2 separate regions of the Homo sapiens genome follow, and region 1 is linked to region 2. Evidence: fine-mapped expression QTL. Tissue or cell type: whole blood. Region 2 holds a variant in brackets; the other region holds the start of a gene. All regions are shown on one strand. Distances are from middle to middle. Region 1 holds the start of PLCB3 (phospholipase C beta 3). Region 2 overlaps MACROD1 (mono-ADP ribosylhydrolase 1).

Region 1 (5,363 bases), 150 kb after region 2:
TTCTTTCTGACTCTCCCTCTTCCCCCCACCGCGCCATGCCCAGGCACACCCAGATTCCTGTCCAGTTCCCATGGCTATCCACCCGAGACCACTTGGTGCAGGTGGGCATGCTGGCCTGCCACCTTCTTGGAAGCTGGGCCACAGAACCTTAGCCTTGGAGTAGAAATACTGGGTTCAAATCCTGGCTCTGCCCCATGGGCTGAGAGGCTGTATGCAAGTCACTTACCTGCTCAGAGCCTCTTCAGGGGGCTTATGGTCCTGACCTCCTGTGGTTGGGGGCCCATGCCCAGCCCTGGCCCTCCTGCCTGAGCCCTACTGGGACTGGAGTGTACCACTGCTCCTCCTCCTTCTAGCCTCAGTCTGTGGCCTCCCCAGCCCTACCCCTTCCAGGGCCCCAGCCCCCCTCCATTAGAGTGCATCCTTGAAGCAGAGGCTCTGGGGAGGGTCCTGTGGGTCAAGACCGCTCCTTCAATCAAGGGTAGAGTCCGGAAAGGCTGCCTGCCTTCACCATTACTGCCTGCTGAGATACCCTATTACCATTACCAAGGATGGAAGAAAGTGTCTGGGAAGGAAGGAGCCCTGTAATGGGGGCTGCCCTGGCCTCCAGAGACACAGGGTTGGGGGAGGAGAGAGGCTTAAGCCCAGGAAACAGGTGCCCATCCTGTTTTTTTCCACAAGGAGCTGCTGCCCAATGCTTCTCTAAAGTACGCTTGCACAAGGCCTAGGGCCCACAGCTCAGATCCCCTAAGCTCAGGCCTTGGCTCCAGGCTTTGCTAGCCCTGGCACAAGCTGGAGGTTCCACTGCCCCAGAGCTGACCTATGCCCTTTCCTCCCTCCCTGGTATACCCACAGCTTCCAGCTACTCATGTCAATTTGGCATCTCCCACCCATTTGCTTATGTATACAACAACCTTTAGGTTCTGGACAAGGTGACTGAGGCACCTAGAGAGACTAGGTTCTGCCACTAGCAAGAGGCTGCTAGCAAGAGCCGGATTTGAACTCCAGCCTGTGAGGGCAGAGGCCAAGCTCCACCTTGCATGGTTCTGTTTTCCCAATGAGGTCTAGAGGCTCCTGGGCCTCAGGAAGTCGGAGGGTTGAAATCCTCCTAAGAAGCTGTGTGACCTTGGGCAAGTCCCTTCCCCTCTCTGGGCCTCAAGTGGAGATCATAATCACACCCCACAGGGCCAGGGCTGAGAGCGAGGAGATCCGCCAGGTTAGAGTTGATGGAGAACTTGGCGGGGTGTGGAGGAAGGCCAGGGCCAGGCAGGGCTCCTTGTGGAGGTCTCAGAGCCTGGGGCAAAGGGGCCTGCAGGGGAGCTCCTCCTTTGCTGACCCCTCCTCCCCCAGAGCCAGCTGCATCTCTTTCTGGGTTTCTAGGTGACTTGGCTGGCCCCTCTGGATGAGTTCTACTTTAAACCTGCTGCTGTTACTGCCTCTGTATTGGGGGGGCTCCCACAGGGGCCCCCAGGCAGGAACCCCCCCCACCAGCTAAGCCCTGCGGGAGGGGCTGCAGCCCCCACCCATCCCATTGCCCATGCGCCTTCCCCGCTCCCATCTCTGGAACGCAGATTTCAGGGCACCTGCTGTGGGCCAGGCACTGCAGAGCCCCTCCTCAACCCTCCTGTCTGGGGACATCCACAAAGCTTCTGACCCCTCTGGGCAGACAACAGCGTTCCCCCCGCGGTTCCCAGCCAAGAGGCTCACAGTCAGGTTCCAGTCATGGGAGTCTGCAGCAACAAGAAGGGGGCTGTTCTAGGGCTCACTCTCGAAGACCAGGATGCTTGGGTCCTTAAAGGAGGTGGCAGGCGCCCGGCCTCCCTGGGCTAGGGACGGGGGAGGGGTGCCTGCCGGCGGGAGGTCCATTAGCCGGCTAAGTGCTCCCAGGGAGGGGGGACCGCGCGGCATAAGAGTGGGTGAGGCGAAGCCAGGGCAGAGGGGGGCGGAAGAAGCTTTTCCTGCATTCAGCTAAGTGCGGCAGAAGAGGGTGGGCGACAGGGCTGTGCAGCGACCCCCCGGCCCAAGTCTAGCCCTCCGCTGGTACTGCAGCCCTAGTCGCTCGGAAACCTCAGTGGGCTGATCCCGGACCGCCTTAAGCAGCGCCCTCTACACCCAGTCCCTCCAGCTGCTCCCCAACAGCCACTTCGGCCCCCAGCGCCCTCCTTCCACCACAGGCCTGAAGAATCAGGTTCTGCTGAGCCCCGCAGCAAAGCCCCCGACCCGTCCGCGTGCCCCTGCCCCAATCCCCGCTCCGGCTGCAGTCGCCGCCCCGGCCGCCAGGGGGAGCCGACGCGGTGGGAGGGGGCGGGGCCCGGGAGGCCCCGCCCCGTCCCCGCCCCGCCCGGGCCCCGCCGAGGCTCTGGTCGGTCCGGGACAGACTGGCGGGCGGGCGGGCACTGACGCCGCGGGGCCGGAGCGGGCCGCGCGGTGGGAGCAGCGGCGCCGTCGGTCCCCGTCAGGGCTCCGTGGGTCCCCGACCCGCCCCTGGCCGGGCCATGGCGGGCGCCCAGCCCGGCGTCCACGCGCTGCAGTTGGAGCCGCCCACCGTGGTGGAGACCCTGCGGCGCGGGAGTAAGTTCATCAAATGGGACGAGGTAAGCGCGCGGGCCCCTGCTCCGCCCAAATCCCGGGACTCTTTCAGTCAAGCTCGACCAGACGCTGGGGACCCCCACCCCAGCCTCGCCTGCCCGTGGCGCCACCCTCATCCCAGTCTGGCGGCGCCCCGGAAACTTAAGTCCCCGATCGTCTCCGTAATGAAGACTTTGTCCCCCCAACTCCCAGTCCCTCAGCTCTGGAAAATTTGCCTCCACTCCTTGGCGCAGAGACTTTGAACCCCAATAAACCCCGTCCCCCCGTTTTCCATTCGTTCTTCCCACCGCTCCCTGCCAGACTAATTCTCGTTCCCCGATCCTGGCCTGGTGCCCAGACCCCTGCCCAGCACTAGACTCCCCGGCTGCAGGACCCTGACTTCCAGGCTGGCTGGGGGCATCCTCATTCTGGGTGTGTGCCAGGGCGCCCCTACTCTCCCCGGTGCCCTGCCTGAACAGTCCTCGTCCATTCATCATTTTTCCCCCTGTTCTGGTTGGCACCCCTTCGCCCTGCTTCTGGATCCCAGCCCAGCTCCCTGTTCAGATGGGAGCACCCAGTCACCCCCTAGTGGAGACTTTGCCCCCCAAGTTCCTCCACCCCTGGGAACTTTGCTCCCCACTCCTTAGGCTTGGGACCTTGAACCCCAATACATCCTGGCCCCCCTTTCCCTGTCCTGCCCCTGGTGCTTCCCAAATGCCTGTGTCCCCACCTTCGGCTGCCCATCCCCATCCTGGGTGCATCCTCTTCTGCCCCCTGGGCCCTTCCTTCCCTAGGGCCTCCACCCGGCCGGCCTGAGCTTCCTCGCAGCTCCTTCCCAGTCAGGCCACGGGCCTGGAAGACTCTGGGCTCTTTTCCGGCTGGGTGGGGCCCCGGGGTAGGCGTGGGAGCTGGGGGGAGGAGATGGGGGCGTGGCCTGAAGCGGCAGGTGTGCGAGGTGGGGTGCCTGGGGGCCCCAGGGGCCGGGGGAGACCCCTCCCCCCAGGCTGGCCTGAAGGGAAAAGTTTCTTCTTTTCATTCCACTGTGATAAACCCAAATAAGGAAGTGGGAACAGGGAGAGGGCCCTGGGGGTGGGGTGGGGGGTGCTGACGGAGGCTTGGGGCAGGAGAGCAGGGGACCTGGGCTGCCTTTGAGGTCCAGACCCCTGGGGAGAGGTGGGAGGGAAACACTAGGGGCAGTACCCATAGACTCCCCGCTCTGCACACCATTCGGGGGCCTCAGGCCCAGGGTAGGGTTGGGAATCCGGAGAAGTGCTGGGGCTGGGTGTCAGCACACTGAAGTGGGGAGGCCCATGCATCCCCAAATTTTGGGGGCCTTCTGTTCCCAGATGAACGCCCATCTTTTGTAAGCAAAGCCTGCCATGGGTGGGGCTGGTGCAATCCCCATTCTCCAGAAGAGGAAACTGAGGTCTGGAAAGCAGAGAGTTATCCCAGGCCCCACAATGGGGTGTGGCTGAGGCCAGGAGCCGGGAGCCTGGCAGAAGTCTCCGCTCCCTGCTTCCCAGGTCACAGGACGCTGCAACCACACTGCCTGCAAGCAGGTCCTGGCTCCAGTGATCTCGGGCAGGCTACGAAGTGTCCCTGTAACTCAGTGTCCTCATCTGTAAAATGGGAGTGACAACAGCACATGCCTCTTAGGCTGGTTAGGAGGCCTTTGTGTGCTCGAAGATGCTAGGTGCATAGAACTGTACCTGGTGCGCAGTAGGGGCGGTGTGCGTATATGAGATGTATTGATAATAATAGTATTGTCCACCAGACACTGAGATGCATTTTGGGGGTGGCACCCAACATGAGGTGGGGTCCTTTTCTGTCTGGAAGAACCTGGAATAGGAGGGTTCTACCTGTAGCCACTTGTTCACTCTGGCCCTGGCCGAGTCTAAGCCCTGGAGGACAGCCCCTCTGGCTGCTGGTCCTGAGTCACACAGGGTGGCCCTGGTAGTGTGCCAGGGACCGGGCCCTTCTTAGAAAATGGGGCTGGCATGCACTTCCCTGCCCCCTGCCAGCTGCACGGCTGTTTGAGGGAGGAAGAGCTCACTGCCCAGTCCTGAGAGTAGGGCAAGTCCCCTTCTAGGGGGACTGTTCTTCTACGAGATGGGGATGAGCTTTGAGGCTGTGAGGACCCCGGCAGATGTGGTAAGGTGGATAATGGGCTTTGAGGCAGACCACAGGGCTATCGTGATGTCCCAAGGGATGCAGAAGGGCAGTGGGAGTCAGACTTCTCACTTTCATGCCTTAAACATTCTGCAGTGGGGTGGATTGGGGGGCTGCCACTGTCACAGAGCTCTCAGCACTTCTGGGGAAACTGAGCCCAGGATGGGGGCTGGGGACCTCTTCCAGGGGGTGGGTCAGATTTCACGGGTGGAGAAGGAAGGGCAGGGTGTCCTGGCAAAGGGAACATGAGACAAAGCCCTGGGAAAGGTCAGGTAGAATCCTAGGGCCAGAGGGAGGTGAGGCTGGGAAGAGGCTTTGAGGTAGGTGTGACACTAAATGTCACACCTAGGACCTTGGCTTTGTTCTGAGGGCCACAGGCAGCCACACAGGACCTGTGGACTGGATGAGGTTTCGTCTTAGCTCATGGGCAGGAACTCTGGGGTGCATGATGGGAGGGCCCCAGGGGCCAGGCCTGCACCACAGCCCTCACTTCCTGACCCCTGCTGCCCTGTGCTGTCCTCAGGAGACCTCCAGTCGGAACCTGGTGACCCTGCGTGTGGACCCCAATGGCTTCTTCTTGTACTGGACGGGCCCCAACATGGTGAGGGTGGGCGCTGGTGCAGCTCGCT
Region 2 (5,363 bases):
CCAGGCCACCTCTGGCCAGAGCTGCCCACATGTGAAGGGAAGGAAGGAAGAAAATAAAGAAGGGGAGATGTCCCGTGGCAAGAGAAGCTCCGTCCTGGGCGAGTGGGCCCCGCACCCCTGAAGTGCCCTGCTCTGGGCGCTGCCTGCTGAGTTTCTCTGATGGCCATCTTGAGGGTGGGCGCTGGCAAAGGCCCAGGCCCGCCGGCCGGGCGGCACAGACTCCTGAAGCCACCCACGGCCTGGCTCGCACACTCTCGCAAATACCCTGAAAGTCTGGGTTTTGTCAGGAGATGGTTTAATTAGCAGAGCGGAGGCTGGGAGGGTTCGCACCACACAAGCAGGCTCTCGCCTCCGCCTCTTCTCACCCTGCTACTCGGGTGCCATGCAGCGGTGCCAAGCCTGGGGGCCCGGAGCGAGTGGGCAGGGAATGGGGTGGGCCCATCTCACAGGGCAGAAGGCACAGCCTCCAGAGGCCTTCCTGCTCCTGCTCAGGCCTGGGGCTGCAGGCTGCAGATCAGGACCAGGCTTGGAGCCCATAGCAAGCCGGCTGTCCATGGCTCTCTTGGTGGTGCTCCTGGGAGCACTCAGCTGCCCTCCAGTGAGGAGAAGGAGGCGGGAACCCACTCAGCACCCAGGCCTGTCTTCAGGGAGTAAAACCTGGGGGCCTCCCAAGTTGGCCCCTTCCCTTCAACCCCTCACTGTATGAGGTCCCTACCCCATGTCCCTGTCCCTGTTCCTGAGGACATGGTCCCAGCTTTTCACTGGTCCTCTCCTGTGCACCTGGGCACCTTCCAGGTCTCCATGCAGCAGCGAGAACACTCTTTCTAAACTGCAAGTCTGGTCACGCTCCTCCATGCCTCGGCACCCTCACAGCCTCCCCCCTGCCCTTGTACAAAGACCAGGCCCCTCAGTGCAGCATTCAGAGCGCCCCTAAGGCCAGGCTCCGGGCCCTGCTTCAGCTCGGATCACGGCCCTCCACTCACTCAGAGCTCTGGGACACTGACCTCTCACTATACCAAGCCCTCCCACCTCCAGTCTTCACATAGGCTGTTCCCTCAGCCTGAAATGTTCTTCCCGTCCCACTCCCAACATGCTGAGCCCATTACTGGAGCGGTCCTAGCCCCCACACGGCAATGCTCTCCCTGCCCCCAGCCTTCTGTCTCCAGTGCCCTCGGGAGAGAGGGAATAAGCAGCCCCCAGACTGCTCTCTGCAATGGGAAAGAAAGGAACAGGCTCTGTGGATGGCCATCCTGGTAGGGGGAAGTCAGAGCCATGGAACAAACTCCAGTTTGAGTCACAAAGAGCCTTTTCATCTATAAAGGTCAGATACAGATGCTGACCTCAGCCTGGAAGTCCAAAATGAAAGAAAATCCTGGGTCTCCTAGCTCGCACCAGCTCTGACCTGCTTACAATGATCTAAACTCTGCCCTCTTTGCCACAGGGCAGCTCTTCCCAGGGAGGGGGCAGGCATGTTGTTCATTTAAAACACCACTTCGCTAAGTCACCAGCCATAAAGCCCACCTGGGTTTCTAGCAGCACATACCAGCCATCTGATTAATGACACATACATAAAAATCCATCCCAAAGAGCCAAAGGTTGAAATGAAACAGGAGGGCTAATTGCTAATATAGGAATTAATATCAGAGAGCTCCGATCTTTAAGGCAGCTATGAACTGTAAAGCTGAGGGCCTGAGGATCGTTTCTACTTCGGGAGGAAGCCCTGAGTGCCAAGGGTGGGCAGTGGCTCTAGAAGATAGGCAGGTGGTCAAGGGGAAACACAGCCAGACCTGCCTCCCTCTGGATTGCCACTGAGCTCACATGTGACTGTCATAACATGAGAGTACCCCAGAACCACAGCACAGCGTCATCTTCTCCAAGAAGCCTCCATGATCCACCCCACTCCCCGAAGGCTGGGCAAGGCGGGGCTCTTGGCTCCCACACTGCCCTGTGTGCGTCTCACATTGTAGCCCTCTGAAAACCAATGCCCTCCCCACTGGACTGTGAGCTCCTGGAGGATGAGGGCATCTCTTTGGATCCCCAATGTCTTGTACAATGCCTGGAGCATGATTAGACTCAGAATATGTTTGCTGGATGGAGAGATGGGTAGATGGAAAGATGGAGAAATGGATAGGTGGAGAGAAATGGATGAATGGAGAGACGGATGGATGAATGGACAGACGGATAGATGGAGAAATGGATGGATGGATGAAAAGATGGAGAGATGGATGGATGGATAGAGGTGAATAGATGGACTGATGGAGAGACGGATGGAAGGATGAATACAGAGATGGAAGGATGGATGGATGGAGAGATAGGAGGATGGATGGAGAGATGAGTGGATAGATTGATGGAGGGATGGATGGATGAAGAGTTGGAAGGATGGAGAGATAGATGGAAGGATGGATGGAGAGATGAATGGATGGGTTGACAGATGGAGAGATGGATAGGTGAATGGAGAAATGAGAAGGAAGGATGGACGGATGGAGAGGTGAATGGATAGATGGATGGATGGATGGATGAATGAATAGAGAAATGGTGAGATGGAGGGATCGAGAAATGGAGGGAGAGATGGAAGGATGGAGGGATGGATGGATGGAGGGGTGCACAAGAGAGCCTCAGGAGAAGCCCAGGACCCCTCAGTGCAGTGTTTGGTGGATGGTCCGTTTCTCTTGCGCTGTCTTGGAGTAGTGCAGCAAGAAGGAAACTGGCCTGGAGTTTGAGGCCCTGACACTGCTACAGGTTGTATAACCCTGCACAAGTCCTGCTCCCTCTTCTCAGTCCACACAATGAAAGTGGTCCTCCCTGACCTGCTAGCCATGCTGTCTTCCCAAGCTCAGGGAAGATGGCAAGGCAGAAATTACTGGGAAAGGACAAGGTGCATTGTCCCCTGGCATATATGTATGGGCAGATTCGGCCAAAACGCAGAGGGTGGTGCAGAGATGTGAGATTGGGCACTTGGCTTTCTTTCCCTCCTTTCAAATTTCTTTTAATACAGTTGTGATGTGATTGACGACAACAAAAGTAGAAAATTGTGTAAGCATCTCAAAGTACTTTTACTCAAAATGGAAGCTTTTATGATGTTGACTCAAAAAATGGTTTATTGGTTTTGAGCACAGAGACCAGACCTGGAGCCTGTGGGAACGGGGGAGGCCAAGGCGAGGAGTGTAACC[A/G]CTAACTTCACACGGCATGGTCTCCACTCACTCGAGCCAGAAGGGTGGCCACTGGGGGTGCTGTGGCTCTGGCGGGAGGTGTCTGCCAGGCGCACGCATTTACATATTTATTCTTGGGCCTCCTTTGGTTCAGTGAATGCAGGTGGCTACTAATGATCATCATTATGCGCCCACACAAGGGAAGAGCCACAGTGCTGCTGGAGAGCTCACACCTCCCAACCACTGCCAGCCAGACTCACTTGGAAAACCAATACACACCCCAGAAGCCTGAGAGGCCCCACTTATCCAGGGCACAGACGCTGAGGAGCCCAGTATCCCAGCACTGGGGTTCCAGGAGGCTCTGCAGGCCCCAGGGAAGGTGGGGGTGGGGGCTGCAGCAGGGAAGGTGGACTGAGGACATACAAAGCTGGACGGGCACCAAGAGCCTCACTTAGTGCCTTGGTTTTCTAAATGAGGGAGCAGATGGAGAGTTTGGTGGGTGCATTTATTAAGCACCAACTGCATGCAAGGCACTGAGCCAGGTGCTGGGGGATCCAGCCTCAGGTCCTCCCTTGAAGCCAGGGAGACAATTCTTTTCATGCTCCGTTGTTGCTGTCATGGTTCACAGGACCACACAAGCCAAGCAGAGGGTGGCCCATTGCAGGGAGGGAGGGATGACGTCTGCATGGATTCTTACAGAAGGGGAACAGTACAGTGAAGGGCCAGGCTGGAGCCAGCTCAGGGCATTAGTGGGCAGTAGTGGGAGACACGGCTGGTGGGCTGGGCAGGGCCCTTGGAGACTACTGTAGGAGCACTGCCTCTATCCTGAGAGCTATGGGACGCTCTCAGGATAAAGCCGAGAAGCTATGGGAAGGGTCTGAGGTGAACACACCAGTGGGATGAACCTGCCTCCTTTTTGGGTTCTTAATTTCAAAAGCAGAGCTCAGTGGTTTCTCTCTTTATCGGGAGGCAGCGGCCACAGCTGACTGGAGCCTCTGGGCTCCCAGGACACGGCAATCATCCTCTCAAAATGCCAAGGCCCGCTGCCCCTGCCCCACCCCCATCGGTATAAAACAATTTCTGCGCCCCGGCCAGGGAGGCGGATGACCTCACTGGACTTTTTCCATCTCTCGCTTTCATGGAGAAATTACAATTTATAATTGGATGAAATCACGCGGGTGGTAATAGCAATAAGGGCTCGTGCTAGAGCCGGCCGCCCTCCCGCCGCGTGCAGGGACTCTGTCCTCATCTTCCCTCCTGCGTAAGCCCCACCGTACCCCTTCCAGGGCCTGTGCCCCACCTGTAGTATTCACCAGGCACTGGCCATTCAGAATCGATGTCCCGTGGGGCTTGCTGGCTCTGAAACCTCCTTCTTCCTAGGGCAGCTTGTCCCAAGAAAACTCCCCCTGCCACCCTGTCCACCCCATCAGACTCAGCCTGCACACCACCTGGCTGGCACACACCCTTCCCAAATGCCTTCCCTGCCAGGCTGTGAGCCCCGTGGGCAGCCACCCCCCATCTGGGTGCTGGGCTTATTAAAACATGAACCCTAATATCCCTGTTTTTATTTGTAACGGCCTCTGACAACAAGCATTTCTCAAATCAGCCACCTTAGGCCCTACAAAGAAAAGTGCCCAGATGCAGCTGAGCCCATCTGGATCTGATTTCAAACCAGAGTGAGCACTCTCAGATGTGTAATAAAAGCCCTTTTCCAAAGAGGGGTTCCTGCAGGGGGAATACAGACACCAGGGCGCCGCGGCCCTTCCACATGCCGCACTAATGAGAGGTGCTGGGGAGGGCTCGGGGTTTTGTTTTGGATTCCAGAACAGCCTGCCCTGCCCTCCGTCTGTGTGGAAGAGGAGGGCGGCTGCGGGTGTTGAGGACTGACCCCCCACCTAGGAAGTGGGGTGGGCACCAGACAGAGGCCAGAAACACGGAGACCCAACTTCCCCAGTTCCCTGATGGTCCTGCTTCCCATGGTGGGGAAAGGCAGTGCTTGTTCTGGAAGCCCAGGCCATGGCGGCCCAGTTGGAGCCTTTGAATGACATTTAGCAAGAAGAGCAGGTGCCGGGGGAATTGGAGCCAGCTCTGGGCTGGGCGGTTGGCCCTGCACGGCCAGGAGCTCGAAAAACTTCATTTTTCTCTTCCCAGTCCTTCCACCCCCAGGGAGGGAAAACCAGGTAGCTGCAAGGCTGGGCACCATGCATGGCCAAT

The links. PIP is the estimated chance that this variant, and not a neighbour inherited with it, causes the effect.
Region 1: it holds the start of PLCB3, and the variant in region 2 is the best candidate, but not a certain one, in a credible set for the expression of PLCB3 in whole blood (INTERVAL, PIP 0.86).

The regions. Positions count from the first base shown.
Region 1 is chr11:64,249,158-64,254,520 of GRCh38, forward strand. PLCB3 (phospholipase C beta 3) reads left to right here and starts at 2,373. Exons shown (of 31, transcript NM_000932.5): 1 at 2,373-2,591; 2 at 5,258-5,335. The coding sequence starts at 2,493. RefSeq lists enhancers at 1-517, 518-1,165, 2,460-3,105, 3,106-3,752 and silencers at 2,185-2,654, 3,142-3,355.
Region 2 is chr11:64,097,329-64,102,691 of GRCh38, forward strand. The region is part of intron 3 of MACROD1 (mono-ADP ribosylhydrolase 1); the gene reads right to left. All of the region lies in intron 1 of FLRT1 (fibronectin leucine rich transmembrane protein 1), which reads left to right. Among named protein-coding and RNA genes, the nearest start is that of FLRT1, 64 kb to the left of the region's middle. The variant A/G (reference allele first, on the strand shown) is at 3,171.